Linked DNA regions of Homo sapiens. The protein of the gene in region 2 purifies or fractionates together with the protein of the main gene of each other region. This does not show direct contact. Each region holds a gene or a part of one and is shown on either strand. Other genes may lie near its edges.

Region 1 (7,362 bases), on a different chromosome or scaffold from region 2:
GGAATTTCAATGCTGAATAAGTGATGCTCTAGTGCTGTGTGGTGTTTTTTTTTTGGCCTCCTAGAATCATAGAATGGTATGAATGGAAAGAATTATTGAATCCAGAGGTCAGCAAACTATGACCCTTGGGCTAAATGTAGCCTACAGCTAAGAATGACTTTAACATTTTTAAAGGCCTGTAAAAACAAAAACAAAGAATATGGGGCAGAGATCACATGAGGCAGAGACATATGTGGCCCCCAAAGCCTAAAATATTTACTATCTAGCTTTTCATAAAAAAAGTTTGCTGACTCCCAAATCTAACCATCTCATTTGTAAAATGAGATAGGTGATCAGTTCACAGCTATATAAGTCATATATATAAGCTATATAATACCAAAGTTGAGACTAGACTCCAAGTTTCTCAATTTCCACTTGGTTTTCTTTCCACTATAACCCAGCTATCCCCTTGTTTTGGAAAACTGGTATTGCTACATTCTTCAGGGGAGTTTTTCAACAGCCCATGTTCTTCTACTTCGCTTCATGTTCCTTTGTTTTCAGTATAAAGAGGTTTTGTGTGCCAGGTTTCCAAAGTTTAAGTGATACGAATGACAACAGTAATACATTAAACATTGATCATTTCACTATTTCAATGATCATTCACTAAACATTGAAGAAAGAGTTTCTATGGGCAAGAAATAATCCTGGTACAGTAATAATAAAATAACTTTTTTTTTTTTTTTTTTTTGAGACAGAGTCTCACTCTGTCACCCAGGCTGGAGTGCAGTGGCACAACCTTGGCTCACTGCAACCTCTGCCTCCTGGGTTCAAGCAATTCTCCTGCCTCAGCCTCCAGAGTAGCTGGGATTACAAGGTGCATGCCACCACGCCTGGCTAATTTTTTGTATTGATAAAAGAACGTATAAGTCATGGTCTCTGTCCTTGGACTTCATTTTCATGTCACATACGTTTATTAAAGAACTACTGGATACCAGGCACTGTGTTAGGTGGTGGGATACAAAGAAACCTCAAGGAGCTCACACTCAAGTGGAGAGAATGGAACGTGCATCTGCTAAGTACATTAAGCTGTGTCAGAAGTACCAGGGAGGTGACACAAATAGAGCAAAATTAAGGGATATCTGGAGGTGACAAACATCACTTCCAGTTTCGGTGATTGCAAAAGCCTTCACATATGAGGACAAAGTAGTCCTTGAGCTCACCAATGAAGGAAGCTAAGATTTCCATAGACAAGGACAACAGGGAAGATGGATCTAGCAGAGTCCAGCATGCGTGATGACTTTAAAGCAGAGCCTGAACCCAACACATTGCCTCTTGTTCTCACTATCTACACAATCACCAGAGAAGAGTGAAAGATGAAAAAATTACTTTTCCCATAAAACTGCCTGATATGGCTAACTTGAGTTTTCTAAAAATAAAAACATTTAAAATTAAAACATTTGCACCAGATGGAAAACAGATTTCAGAGGAACTGAATTTTATTTGTAGAGAGAAGAAAAATCCTCTCTCAAAGACTACACACAATGCTCTCAAAGTTAAGAGGAAAGAGTCTTACCAGTTTGTAGCAAATTGCAAAAGCAAGAACATAGGTATCTTTGGTGAACTTCACATCTTGGTTTTTCATCTCTATCAATACTTGCAAAGCACCTGCCAAAAGTGAAGAGTGGATCGCAGTGTTAGAGTTCCTCTACTGTTGGCCCCCAAAGCTCTCATCTGTTCAGCACCATCTACAGAAAAGTGTATTTCAACAAAATAAAAGCTATTCCTCAAAGTCATTTAGCAATTAACTAAATGTTGAAATAAACTATCAAGTCAAACAGGAAGAACTAATGTTTTAAAAGCTGCTTCACAATTTTAGCATAAGTAAAATCTGGGATATTTAGTTTAAGGGATGACATGCAATGCAATGTTTTCAAACTTCCTAAGGTCTCCAGAATTCAGCCACTTATCAGGGATATAAGAATCATTTTTTTTTTTTTTTTTTTGAGACGGAGTCTCGCTCTGTCGCCCAGGCCGGACTGCGGACTGCAGTGGCGCAATCTCGGCTCACTGCAAGCTCCGCTTCCCGGGTTCACGCCATTCTCCTGCCTCAGCCTCCCGAGTAGCTGGGACTACAGGCGCCCGCCACCGCGCCCGGCTAATTTTTTGTATTTTTAGTAGAGACGGGGTTTCACCTTGTTAGCCAGGATGGTCTCGATCTCCTGACCTCATGATCCACCCGCCTCAGCCTCCCAAAGTGCTGGGATTACAGAAGAATCATTTTTGCATGACTCATTTTTCCCCCTAGTTCCTATGCCAGCAAACATGGCAGAATTTTTCAGCAAATAGAAATTGCAGTACTTACTTTTATATTTGCCTTTGATAAATAACATATCCATCAAAATATTGAATGATGTGGAGTCTGAGAAGAAACCTCGTAAATGCTAACGAAGAAGAACAATACAGTTTGGTTAAAAGTTAAAACTATTTATTGAGGAGGTACTTTTACTGTCTCTTATCTAGCCAGGTCTTATTATTCTGCATGCTTTACTCATTTGGCCTTCTGAATTCTCTAATATATTTTATATACCCAGGTTTTATTTTTGAAAAGTTGGCCGGGCGTGGTGGCTCACGCCTATAATCTCAGCACTTTGGGAGCCCAAGGCAGGTGGATCACGAGGTCAGAAGTTCAAGACCAGCCTGGCCAACATGGTGAAACCCCGTCTCTACTAAAAATACAAAAATTAGCTGGGCATGGTGGTGGGCACCTGTAATCCCAGCTACTCAGGAGGCTGAGGCAGAGAATTGCTTGAACCCAGGAGGTGGAGGCTGCAGTAAGCCGAGATCACGCCACTGCACTCCAGCCTGGGTGACAGGGCGAGACTCCGTCTCAAAAAGAAAAAAAAAAAAAGAAAAAAGTTAAAATGCTGTCCACTCTCTTGGCTGTCATGCTGAGAGGTATAGCAAGAGATCTCTGGGTTTCATAATTACCATGAAGGACGTCTTTAAGGAACCGTCATTTGTCATGCTTAGGAGAAAAGAAACTAGCCAGTTAACCCTGGCAGAGTGGTCCTGGAAACTAGGTGCCAGCTATTAACATGAAATGGCAGCTATAAATATACTTGAGGACTAAGGCAGGAGGGTCTCACACAACTATGGTCTTTTTTTGGCAACGGATAATACAGAATTGATTATTCGCCTTTTGAAATAATTCTCCAAAACAGTGGTTCTCAACATTTTTTTCCAACTTGTCTGTATGTATTTATTTAATTGACAAATAAAAATTGTATATATTTGGCCAGGTGTGGTGGCTCACGCCTGTAATCCCAGTACTTTGGGAGGGAGAGGCGGGATCACTTGAGGCCAAGAGTTCAGGACCAGCCTGGGCAATACAGCAAGATCCCATCTCTTAAAAAAAATAATAAAAATTTAAAAAATTAGCTGGGTGTGGTGGCACAAGGCTGGAATCCTAGCTACTTGGGAGACTGAGGTAGGACGATCACTTGAACCCAAGAGTTATGAGACTGCAATGAGCTATGATAATAGTGCCACTGTATTCCCGCTTAGGTGACGGAGCAAGACCCTGTATCCAAAAAAAACCCCAAAAAACAGTATGTTGTTTTGAAATATGTATATATTACAGAATGGCTAAGCCAAGCTAATTAACATATGCATTACTTCACATACTCATTTTGTGTGGTGAAAGTACATAAAACCTATTCTTTAGGCAATTTTGAAGAATACAATACATTGTCATTAACTATAGTCACTATGTTGTACAGAGAAATCCCTTGAACTTATTCCATCTTACTGAAATTTTGTATCCTTTGACCAACATCTTGCTAACATCTCAACATTTTGTGTGCCATGATAATGGGACACATGGTATTCAAATGTGTCATTAAATGCCTTGCTCAAGTTCACTCTTTTCCGATCACCTACTATGCAGACCCTGTTCTAGGTGCTGAGAATAAAGAAATGATAAACAGGATATACACCCTGCTCAAAACCCTACTAGGGTTTATAATCTAGTAGAGCTTAAATTCTGGTGGAGAAGACAGTGAATAAGACAAGTGAAAAAAAATATTAATTTCAGCTATTAGTAAAGTCTATGAAGAGCAAGTAGAGAAGATGGATGGAAGGTAGTCAGGGAAGGCACTGTGAGAAGAGACCTCAGTGAGGTCAAGGAGGGAGCCTCAAGGATAAGAATGCAGAATGTTCCAGTTAGAGGCTGTGAGCTCGCCATGGCTGAGGAAGAACATGCAGGTCCAGAGTGAAGTCAGCAAGGGAGAAAGGGGAGATGGCACAATGGGCCCCCTAGGTCAGAGTCAAGGGTCTGGGTTTTCTTCTAAGTGTGAGGGAAAGCCACCAGAGCAGCCCCAGCCAATGGAAAAGCATTTTGAGTCACCAAGGATATTTTAGAATCACAATGTATGTGACTCTAAATTTTCAATTAGCCTCATTTAAAAAAGTAAACAGAAATAGACTAAATTATTTAACCCACTATATCCAAGATGTAATTTCAACATGTAATCAATATAAAAATTAACATACATTGCATTCTTTTTATAACAAGTAATTAAAATCCATCATATATTTTATACTTACAGCACATGTAAATTTGAGTTAGCCACAGTTCAATGACTCCATGTGGCTACCATGCTGGCAACACTACAGGGTTGTAAGTAGGGAACAAGAGAAGTTCGGCTAGAAGCAGGATTAGGTCCTATGTCACTTACTCGAATTTGTCCATTCTACTCCAGAAAATTTACCTATACATGACTTTTTCATATACAAGCAGGCTAAAAAAAACCCGTTTGCTTTCATCTTTTTTATTTTTGTTTTTATCACCATACTCATGGCTATGATTTATTACAGTGGGAAGCTTTTGTTTTCCTTTAACTGAAACATTAACATATGTTTATTAAAAATAGTCAAATAATACAAAAATGTATAAAGTAAAAAGTGAGAATTTTTAATAATTCTACCCCCTAAAGATAAAGTGATTTAGTGTCTATCTTTCCAGTATCTATGTATTTATATTTTGTTAAAATGTTAATGTTAATATGTGTCTTTTCTTATGGAACAAAAAAAAACAGGATCAAACTATCTGTACTGTTCCGAAACAACCTTTTCTCTGCTTACTAATATATTATGGGTATCTTTCTAATACACAGGTGTCATTAAATAGGAGCAAGTCTAGAGTTAACATGCCCACCATGTACAGAGAAAATTTTGTATAAAAAAAGAGTAAGAGGCAGAAGAACAACTCAACTTGTTATGTAAGTTCCTAAATATACAAAAAGGTACCTGGTGGCCAGCCGTGGCCCCAAAATTTAGCAAATGTTTCTGATTATGGGAAACACAGCCTCATGAAAAGCAGTCTAAGCTTACACTCCCCCAAAGTGATGTTTCTGTTCTCTACATGGCATCTAGTAATCAAAATGACTTCATAATGAATGAATGAATTTATAATGTCTCTAGGTCCTAGTTTCTTTATCTACAAAATGGAAATCTACCTTATCAGGGCTATTGTGAGAAACAAATAAAATGAAACATTTAAAGTACTTAAACACAATGCTGAAGACATAGTAAATATTCAATGAGTAGCTGTAAAAATAATTATTTACTTTTGTTTTTAGGAACAGAAAGTCAGAATATGTGACGGAAAGTATTTTGAAAATAGAAAAGCACTTCCCAAATGTAGTCTTCAACCAGAAAAATACAAATACAAAATCGAGAGGGAATACAGGTAAAGGATAGGAATGTCAGTCTTTAAATGGAGACTGTCTTAAGCTCTTCTCTATTGAAAGCCCCTAAAAAAGCAGGTGTACAACCCACATTGATACACATCCAAGGTAGGATCATCTGTACCTATACCTCCTCCACACTTGTTCTATATTACTCCACCCCCCTTCACACAAACTGACTGCAAGGAAACTTAAAAATGCAGAGATGTGCTCATTCAGCCCCAGCAGCCTTTCTTTGAAAATCTAACCCAGGAATAATGTACATAGAAGACATGCCTTTTCCAATATCACCAAAAACACACACATTGGCAGAGAAAACAATTAGGAAACAATAACCTGGTCTTTCATGAGCTCCACTGCAGATTCCTCGAGATCCAACTCGTAACACAACCTCACAAAAAGCGGTCCAAATTTATACTCCCCCAAAGTGAAATTTTTGTTCTCTGCATGGTACCTGGTAATGAAAATGATTCAATGAGCCAAAAGGTAGGACACAGGAAAAAGGACAGACACAGACTATGGCAGGTACTGTGCCAGGTACTGGGACACAACAGAGAACGAAGTCCTCTCACAGTCTGGAGGGGGAGAAATGGAGATTTCAGACAATCAGGAATCCTGGAGTGCAGAAGTACACCAATCATTTAAACAAGTAAACAGAATTTACAGCAGACTGACATAAAATAAAAGAAACAGAGGAAAAACGTATGTTGTAATCATTCTCTAAATTTAGAAACAACCCCTAGACTGAGTGTGAGCACACCTTAAGAAACAGCAGGAGTCTAGTAGCATCTGTAAGTGCATCAGAATGGGCCCCACCCAGAGGAGAACAAGGGAAAGAAGTGGGGGTGATGCTCTGTGCTCCTGGAGGCTGGTTTCATCCTCATATAGGATGGCAGACAACCAACAGTCACATTTACAATTTACAGCAACTCTCTGCTTTTCTAAGCTTGAGAAAGGTACACCTGGGCTATGATCACCTGGCTAAACAAATTAAATGTGGTTTTGAATGTTTAAGTTTTAGGAAAAGGCTAATCTCAAAGATAATGATGTCTTCTATGTGGCTTGAGATTTCTACAGGCAGCCAGTCTGCCAGTCAGAACTGCATATCACTACTGTAAATTTACTTTCAATAACCAATTCTTTTTGCTTTAGACACCAAGAGGACAATATATGACAAAATCAACACCTCATGATTACACATAAATCAGATTTTAGAAAGACTTATTCATTAAGAATCTTCATATTCATATTTCTTTCAGATTTAGATTCATATAATGAGTGAATCTAAAATACCTTGGGGAGAAGCGCTGATGATAAAACAGGATACTTTTTACCTTCTGCTAAAAATCATCGAGGAGTCAGAGTAGTATTACGCTAGTCTATTCTAAATGCATATACTACAATGATACCATAATAGAATGATGAGGTGTACTTTGATACATTTCATTATCCACTTATAGAAGTTACAAATAGGCCGGGCACAGTGGCTCACACCTGTAATCCCAGCACTTTGGGAGGCCGAACCAGGCGGATTATGAGGTCAGGAGATCGAGACCATCTTGGCTAACATGGTGAAACCCCGTCTCTACTGAAAATACAAAAAAAAAAAAAATTAGCCGGGCGTGGTGGCGGGCGC
Region 2 (7,775 bases):
GGCTTCCCATCTTTTGGTTTTATTTCTGCACAGATAGCTAAAAATGAGAAACAGAGATATCCCAAAACACCTTTGGATGGCTTCTCAGCAAAGTAAGCCAGAAAGTTAAGACGGCCATGAGCATTCCCCACTACATCCCCCGCCTGCCTTTGAAGGTGGAGGGAGCTGGGGCAGGAGACCCTTTGTCTTTTGCCCCAGCCAAGACTCAGATGTCTTTGCATCAGGAGGAGTCAGCTGTGAGATTTCCTCTGTAACAGGAAGGGATAACAGGTCCTGCCCTTTGTCACCTTCCTTTCCTCTTGGTTGTCACCTCCTCCCCTGTCCTGTCCCCTAGAGTCTCAAGAGTTGAGTGGAGGGAAGGAGCCCGATTATGAGGAAGATACATTATCAGTGCAGCCAGAACCAAGGGATGGTGATAAAGCAGGAAGACTTTGGGGGAGGGGAGAGTGGAAAAGCCTGCCTCCTGCTTGCCAACCCCGTCCCCAAGCACTTCTCTGAACACTTGGTGCCTCTGTCCAAATGTAGCAGTGTGTTGTGGCACTCTCCTCATGAAAACCATGAACCAGAGCATCTCAGAGCTTGGAGGAGTCTTAGGGATTACTTAGTCCAATCCCATTTCACAGATAAGAAGGCTGATATTCAGAAGGTTATGGTGATGTTTCCCAAACCAGTGGAAGGCCAGGATTAGGAGCCAAGGCTCCTAAGGCAGGATTTCACAGACTGTGCCCCATGGCGCCACCTTTGGAGGCTGTGGCAGTGCCTCAGTGTATTTCTTGGGAGCTCAGGAGGAGGTTTAAGGGGTGAGCGTAGGATAGGAGGCTATGGGACTTGCTTCCGTTAGGCTTCAACTCTATACATTGGAGTCATTTATTTGTTTTTTTCTGTGTAAAATTTCATTCCATAAAAGGAAACCATGGATTTAAAAAAAAAGGCAAAAAAAACCCAAAGTGGTTTGAAATCTATTGCACTTTACTCAAGTCCCCCTTAACGAATGTACTCACGAAAGAGCAGTGTAATTCAATGCCACACAAGGCAGCCACAGACAGAGGCTTGAAAGTTTCCCGCTTCACCACACACCTTTCCCATCACTCTAGCCCTAACCGACCACATTCACATTTAGGTTGCTCACCACTCTGCTCCTCACTCATCTCCTGCCCCCTCTTCCTTGTTTCTTCTGGTTCTTTTCAACACTCTCCCAATTCCCCTCACCCACTTTTTTGTTTTCTTTTTATTGATTGTCTCCTTGACACTACTGTATCATCAAATCATTGGCAGATTACTGTGCCCATTTTTCAGATGAGAATACTGAGGCCATGAGAACTGCTTCATGGACCCTCTGAGTTTAGCCAGGGTGGCCCCCTGTTGGTACACCCATATCCCAGAAACAGAGCTACCCGTTCTTCTCGGGCCTTTCCAGTTTCTACCTCAGATTTATGTACCTGGAGAGGGAAGAAACCCCAACTGGTACTCCCTGAGGAAGATTCAGCTCAAATGCACATGTAGTGAGCATCTCTTTGGTGCCAGGTCCAGTGATAGACGGCTTGTTATGATTAAAAGAGCACTAGCTTTCTAGCTTTCTAAACTCAATCTCTGGCTACCTTATAAATGCTGTGTTATCTTGCCCAAGAAGCGTGATCTCTCTGCTGAGCCTAAGTTTCCTCAACTGTAAAACAGGGATAATGATATCTGTCTTACAGACTCATGAGGAGGTGGTATGAAAAACACCTGCGATGTAGTAACTTAATAAATGGTGATTATTTTAATAATTATTTTGCATTTGATATGTCATTTAAAATGTCACAATAATTCTGCAACTTAGATTTCATTCTCTGTTACACACCTGAGAAGAGCAAGGCTCAGAAGGGAAGAGTAATTTGCCTACAATAATACAGCTACTAAGTCAAACCAAGGATGCGCTTGTCCAGTGCCAGGATTTGTTCCACTGCCCTGCCCACTGGAAGTTCCAGGACAATCTCTGTCTCCTTTCAGCCTCAGGAGGTACACTACACAGGCTGCCTCTGGAGGAGGGCAGAGGGGGACCTGCATGGCAGTTTTTCATACTTGTGCTCTTTCGCTGACTGATTTCAGATGGACACCTGTAGCTTTCAAAGTCTCTATAATTTTCCCCAACCCCTCCACCTTATCTCCCTCAAGTTCTATTTCTGCTCATCATTTCCGTTCAGGGAGTTTTTTTTTTGTTTTTTTTTTTTAAAGTGAGGGCCTATTCCAGAACCACCTGGTTAGACCCAGGTACCTCTCAAAAATACAAACTTCTGATGAATTCAAAGTGGGTAAGAGTCTGCTGATGCTGACCACTTAGCGATGCAGGGGAAAATATTGGGGGCACCAGCTGCCTGCGTGGTCTTGGGCAGATCACTCCAGGCAGGCTCAGATACACATAATGAAGCAGTTATGTGAAGTCCTTATAGGGGGACCTCATGGTAGTACTCCATGAGATTGATGACAGAAGAGATATTTCTCACTTATAGGGCTCCTGATCCTTTCTGAGAGCCCTTAGGATAGAAAAATCTTCAAAGACTAGAATACCAGTGACAGGTGGAGAACTGTCCTCTGTCCTCCATGGGATTAAACATAAAGTGCCTATGGTATGAGTTGGTTCTCTAAGTAGAGACTGATTACATTGCTTGAGTAAGGAAAGAAAATTCAAGTGATTCTTTCCATTTATATTACTGTTATGCATAACCAATTTTATAAATACATTTATAAGTAAATAAATACATACCTGTATAGTATCATCTTGTTCTTAAAGTTGCCCTCAAAAGGAGAGAAGGCTAGAAGATAAAGTTTCTGAGGCCCAGGAAAACTTTAACATTCCTTATCTAACTCATGGCAGAACCTGGATTAGAAAAATGGTCTCTGATACCCAGCACCACTTCTTTCAGCTCCTTCATCCCTGGGACAGTCAACAGGGGAGTCAGTTCCCAGAGCCATTTTTCCCCCTCTCTCTAGTCTCTTCCTGACCTGAGAATCAGAGATCAGAGATTGATAAAAAGCAAATGTTAGATGAGAACACAGAGCCTCCCGAGTTGAGCCAGAGGCCCAGAGTGGAACAAGAAACCTGGAACTATTCAGGATGGGGTAGACAGGAGAGTGGAAGAGAATCCGGCCGGACTCACCTGTGAGCTGCCAAAGGATATAGATGAGGGTGAGGCATGTTGGGGAACCAGCCATATTGCTCTCTGGAAGTCAGCCACTGAAATGAAGCCACTTCCCTCTTAGGTATTACTCAGACCTCTTCCCCAGCTGATATTTAAAGAAGCAGGAGGGGTCACGCCGCAGACATGTGAGATTGAGTAATTGCTAAATTATTTTCAGAGTGAATAGAGCATTTTACCTTGCCACCAGCAATCTATGAGAGATCTATTTGCTCCCCATCTTCATCAGCATTTGGTATATTCCCATTTTATATTTTAGCTGTTTTAATAGGTGCTGTAGTGATACCTCATTGTGGCTTTAATTTGCATTTCCCTAAAGCCTAATAATGTTGAACATCTTTTCATGTGCTTATTTGCCATCTATATATCCATATCCTCCTTGGTGAAATGTCTATTTATGTCTTTTGTCCATTTTATAATCAGATTCTTTATTTTTTTTACTGTTGAGCTTTGACAATTCCTTATATGTTCCAAGTATAAGAGTCATTTGTCAGATATGTGGTTTACAAATATTTTCTCTTGGTCTGTAGCCTGTCTTTTCATCTTCTTAACGGGGTCTTTGGCAGAGCAAAAATTTTAATTTTGATGAAATTCAACTTATCAGTTTTTTTTCTACCCACACTAGGGTCCAAAGGTTTTCTCCTGAAAGTTTTATAGTTTTATGTTTTACATTTAAATGTATGATCCTGTTTTAATGTAAGGTGTGAAGTTTAGGTTGAGATTCACCTAAATATATTGTCTATATTCATTGAGAACCATATCAGGTAATATGGTTGACAGTTTTTTTTTGCTTTCGACACTTGAAAAGTGTCATGACACTCCTCCCCTCCATGGTTTCCAGTGAGAAATCAGCCATCATTTAAATTGTTTTCCCTATAGGTAATGTGTCATTTTTCTCTAGCTGTTTTAAAAGTTTTTTGTTTGCCTTTGGTTTTCAGAAGTATGATTACAATGTGCGTGTTTTTTTTTCTTCTGCCTGTGGGTGTTCAATTGTTCTACTACCATGTGATGGAAAAGATGATCTTTCCTACATTGAATTACTTTTGTATCTTTATCAAAAATCAGCACTTATACTTGTGTGGGTATATTCTGGAGCTATCTATTCTATTTAACTGACTTACATAATGTAATTATTTATATATCAGAGCTTAAGTTTGCCATGTTATTATTTTCTCTTTGTTCTTCTGGGCTTTTGTTTGTTTATTTTGTTCCTCTGTTTCACTTTCCTGGCCATCCTGTGTGTTACTGGAATATTTTTTATAATTCCATTTTGATTTATCTATAATGTATCTTTTTGAAGAGTTTTTTTACTGGTTGCTGTACATATTGCATTTTACATACATAACTTTTGATCTACCTATCAGTGTTGACATTTTACCAGTTGAACTAGGTATAGAAAACTTACCTATATTAGGTTTCTTTATTAGTCTATCTTTATACTTGTCTTAAATATATTGTCTATATTCATTGAGAACCATATCGGTAAGATTATAAGTTTTGCTTCAATTGTTGAACATAATTCAGAACACTCAAGAGGAGAAGGACAATCCATTACATTTACCCATATTTTAACTCTTTTCATTGTTATTTCTTTATTTCTAATGTTTCAAGTTTCCTTCTTTTTATTTTTTTTTGGACGAAGTCTTGCTCTGTCATACAGGCTGGAGTGTAGTGGCATGATCTTGGCTCACTGCAATCTCCGCCTCCTGGGTTCAAGCGATTCTCCTGCCTCAGCCTCCTGAGTAGCTGGGACTACAGGCTCATGCCACCATGCCCACCTACTTTTTGTACTTTTAGTAGAGATCAGGTTTCGCCATGTTGGCCAGGCTAGTCTCAAACTCCTGACCTCAGGTGATCCACCAACTTTGGCCTCCCAAAGTGCTGGGATTACAGGTATGAGCCACCACACCCAGCCTTCAAGTTTTCTTCTTTAATCATTTCTTTCTGTTTCAAGATATTCTTTAGGAATTCTTTTATGATAAGCCTGCTGATAACAAATTATCTTAGTTTTCCTTCACCTGAGAATGTCTTGATTTAACCCTCATTCCTGGGTATAAAATTCTAGGTTGACAGTTTTTTTTCTTTCAACACTTGAAAAGTGTCATGACACTCCTCCCCTCCATGGTTTCCAGTGAGAAATCAGCCGTCATTTAAGTTGTTTTCCCTGTAGGTAATGTGTCATTTTTCTCTAGCTGTTTTAAAAGTTTTTTGTTTGTCTTTAGTTTTCAGAAGTGTGATTATAATGTGTCTTGGTGTGAATTTCTTTGGGTTTCTCTTATTTGTGATTCATTGAGTCTCTTGAATCTGTAGGTTTTTACCTTTTGCTAAGTTTGGGGAAATTTCATTATTTTTTGAATACTTTTTTTTCAGCCTCACATTCTCGCTTCTCTCCTAAAATTCTGATGACATGAATGTTATAAATCTTTTGTTTTTCTCCCACAGGGCTCTGAGGCTCCATTTTTTTTTTTTTTTTTTTTTTTTTTTGGCCTATTTTCACTCTGTTTTCAGATTGGGTATTTTCTATTGTTTATCTTCAAGTACACTGATTCTTTCCTTTTTCATCTCCATTTTGCAATTTTTTATTTTTTTATTTTTTCTGAGACAGAGTCTCACTCTGTTGCCCAGGCTGGAGTGCACGATCTCAGCTCACTGCAACCTCTGTCTCCTGGGCTCAAGCGATTCTCCTGCCTCAGCCTCCTAAGTAGCTGGGATTACTGGCACCCGCCACCACACCTGGCTAATTTTTATATTTTGGTAGCGACAGAGTTTTGCCATGTTGGCCAGGCTGGTCTTGTACTCTTGACCTCAGGTGATCCGCCCACCTTGGCCTCCCCAAGTGCTGGGATTGCCAGTATGAGCCACTGGCCCTGGCCTCCATTTTGCTATTAAGCTCATTAAACTCATTCAATTAGTTTTACCTTTCAGTCATTGTATTATTCAATTCTAAAATTTCCCTTTGGTTCTTCTTTATATCTTCTACTCTTTTTTTAAAGACTTTCTAGTTTTTTTGTTTATTTGTTTTAAATGTGTTCATAGCTGCTAGTTGAAGCATTTTTACTATGGTTTCTTTAAAATCCTTGTAAGATAATTCTAACGTCTGTGTTGTCTTGGTTTTGGTGTCTGTTGATTGCCTTTTGTTCATTCAAGTCAAGATTGTCCTGGTTCTTGTTATGATGAGTGATTTTTGACACAGTGATGATAAGGTAGGGGACCACATTACTGCTGAGCAGTGGTAAAAATCCAGACCCTCCATTTGGCCTTTTCTGACACCACCCAAAGCAAGAATTGGGAGGAGTGCCTCATTGCTTCAGGGAGGGAGTGCATGTTCAGTCTTCCTACTTAGCCTCTTCTGATGCCACCCCAGTGGGGAGTGGGGAGTGGGGAGGGATGATTCCTTACTGCCAAGGGGTGGGGTGGGGGGTTTAAATATAGGTTTTCCACTTGGCCTTTGCTGTTGGCGGGGGGGTGGTGTCCCATATTTCCACATGATGTTTGGCTAGAATATGGTGATTATTGTTTAAAGGCTTCTATTCCAGCAGTCCCCTTTCCAGTCTTTTGGCAGGAGAGAACAGAAAATCCTTGGGATTGGCGTTTCTAGATTATATTCTTATCTAGCACATGGCCTACAATACACAGGGGACAAAAAGAAAACACGGGTAACTCATTGTCATGTCATTCCTCATGTCCAGAGGCTCCTTGCCCCCCTTCATCTCTCAACTGTTTAGAATCTTCTTGTGTTTGTGTTTTATATATTATGTCCAGGATTTTTTTTTTAAAATTTGTAATTAGTGGCAAGAATAGAGATAAATTCACTCACTCCATCTTGTCTGTAATTTCTCATGTCTGATCACATGTTTTTATATCCATTCTCTCCACTGACTTGATTGAAATAATGGTCAAATCTTTTAAAAAAGACTTCCTGTCAAGTGGCAAAACGAATCCATGTGGACTTGAAAAACACAGTAATGATAGATAAAGCATTTTCAAATGTATTAAAATGTATGGCCTTGCTCAAAACTAAGGGAAAAATTTCTGTGAATGAGAAACAGTGCAGAAATCCACAGCACATGGAAAGGGAGGGCATATGTGCTAAAAGGAGCCTTGATACACAAATCCTGCAAATACAGGAAAAGAAAATTACACGCCAGCATCACTTATGAAGATAGTTGCAAAGATCCTAAATGACACTTTAGCAAATCAAAGCCGTTGGCATATAAAAACACACCATGACTAAATAGCATTTATCCCATGAATGTGAGAATGGGCCAATATTTCAAAAATTTATCAGCATAGTCCATCACATTGATTAAATGTAAAACAACATATGATCATCTCAGAAGACATAGTAAAAACTTTGATAAAAATATGGATTCATAATTTCAAAAATGTTTAGTAAACTTTGGCAAACATCATACTTAATGCTGAACCTTTAGAAGAAGTAGTATCAAAGTCAAGACTAAGACAAGGATTTCTCTAGTCACTGATAGTATTTATTAATTACCTGGTGTCTTGGCCAAAGCAATGAGACAAGAAAAGTAAAGAAGATGTAACTGGATTAGAAAGAGAGACAAATAATTGTTATTTTCAGACCCTATCACT

Evidence for each region. Proteins that work in one complex are often made in the same cells at the same time.
Region 1: the proteins of SLAMF7 (region 2) and PTCD2 purify together in Homo sapiens (affinity purification with mass spectrometry; 3 studies listed by BioGRID and IntAct, with this or other methods). This does not show direct contact.

Annotation. Positions count from the first base shown.
Region 1 is NC_000005.10:72,330,076-72,337,437, reverse strand, and holds part of PTCD2 (pentatricopeptide repeat-containing protein 2, mitochondrial), read right to left. Parts: intron 6,181-7,362; coding exon 6,063-6,180; intron 2,421-6,062; coding exon 2,342-2,420; intron 1,645-2,341; coding exon 1,553-1,644; intron 1-1,552. UniProt on the Homo sapiens protein: Involved in mitochondrial RNA maturation and mitochondrial respiratory chain function.
Region 2 is NC_000001.11:160,734,719-160,742,493, reverse strand, and holds the start of SLAMF7 (SLAM family member 7 isoform a precursor), read right to left. Parts: upstream 3,248-7,775; 5' UTR 3,193-3,247; coding exon 3,138-3,192; intron 1-3,137. UniProt on the Homo sapiens protein: Self-ligand receptor of the signaling lymphocytic activation molecule (SLAM) family.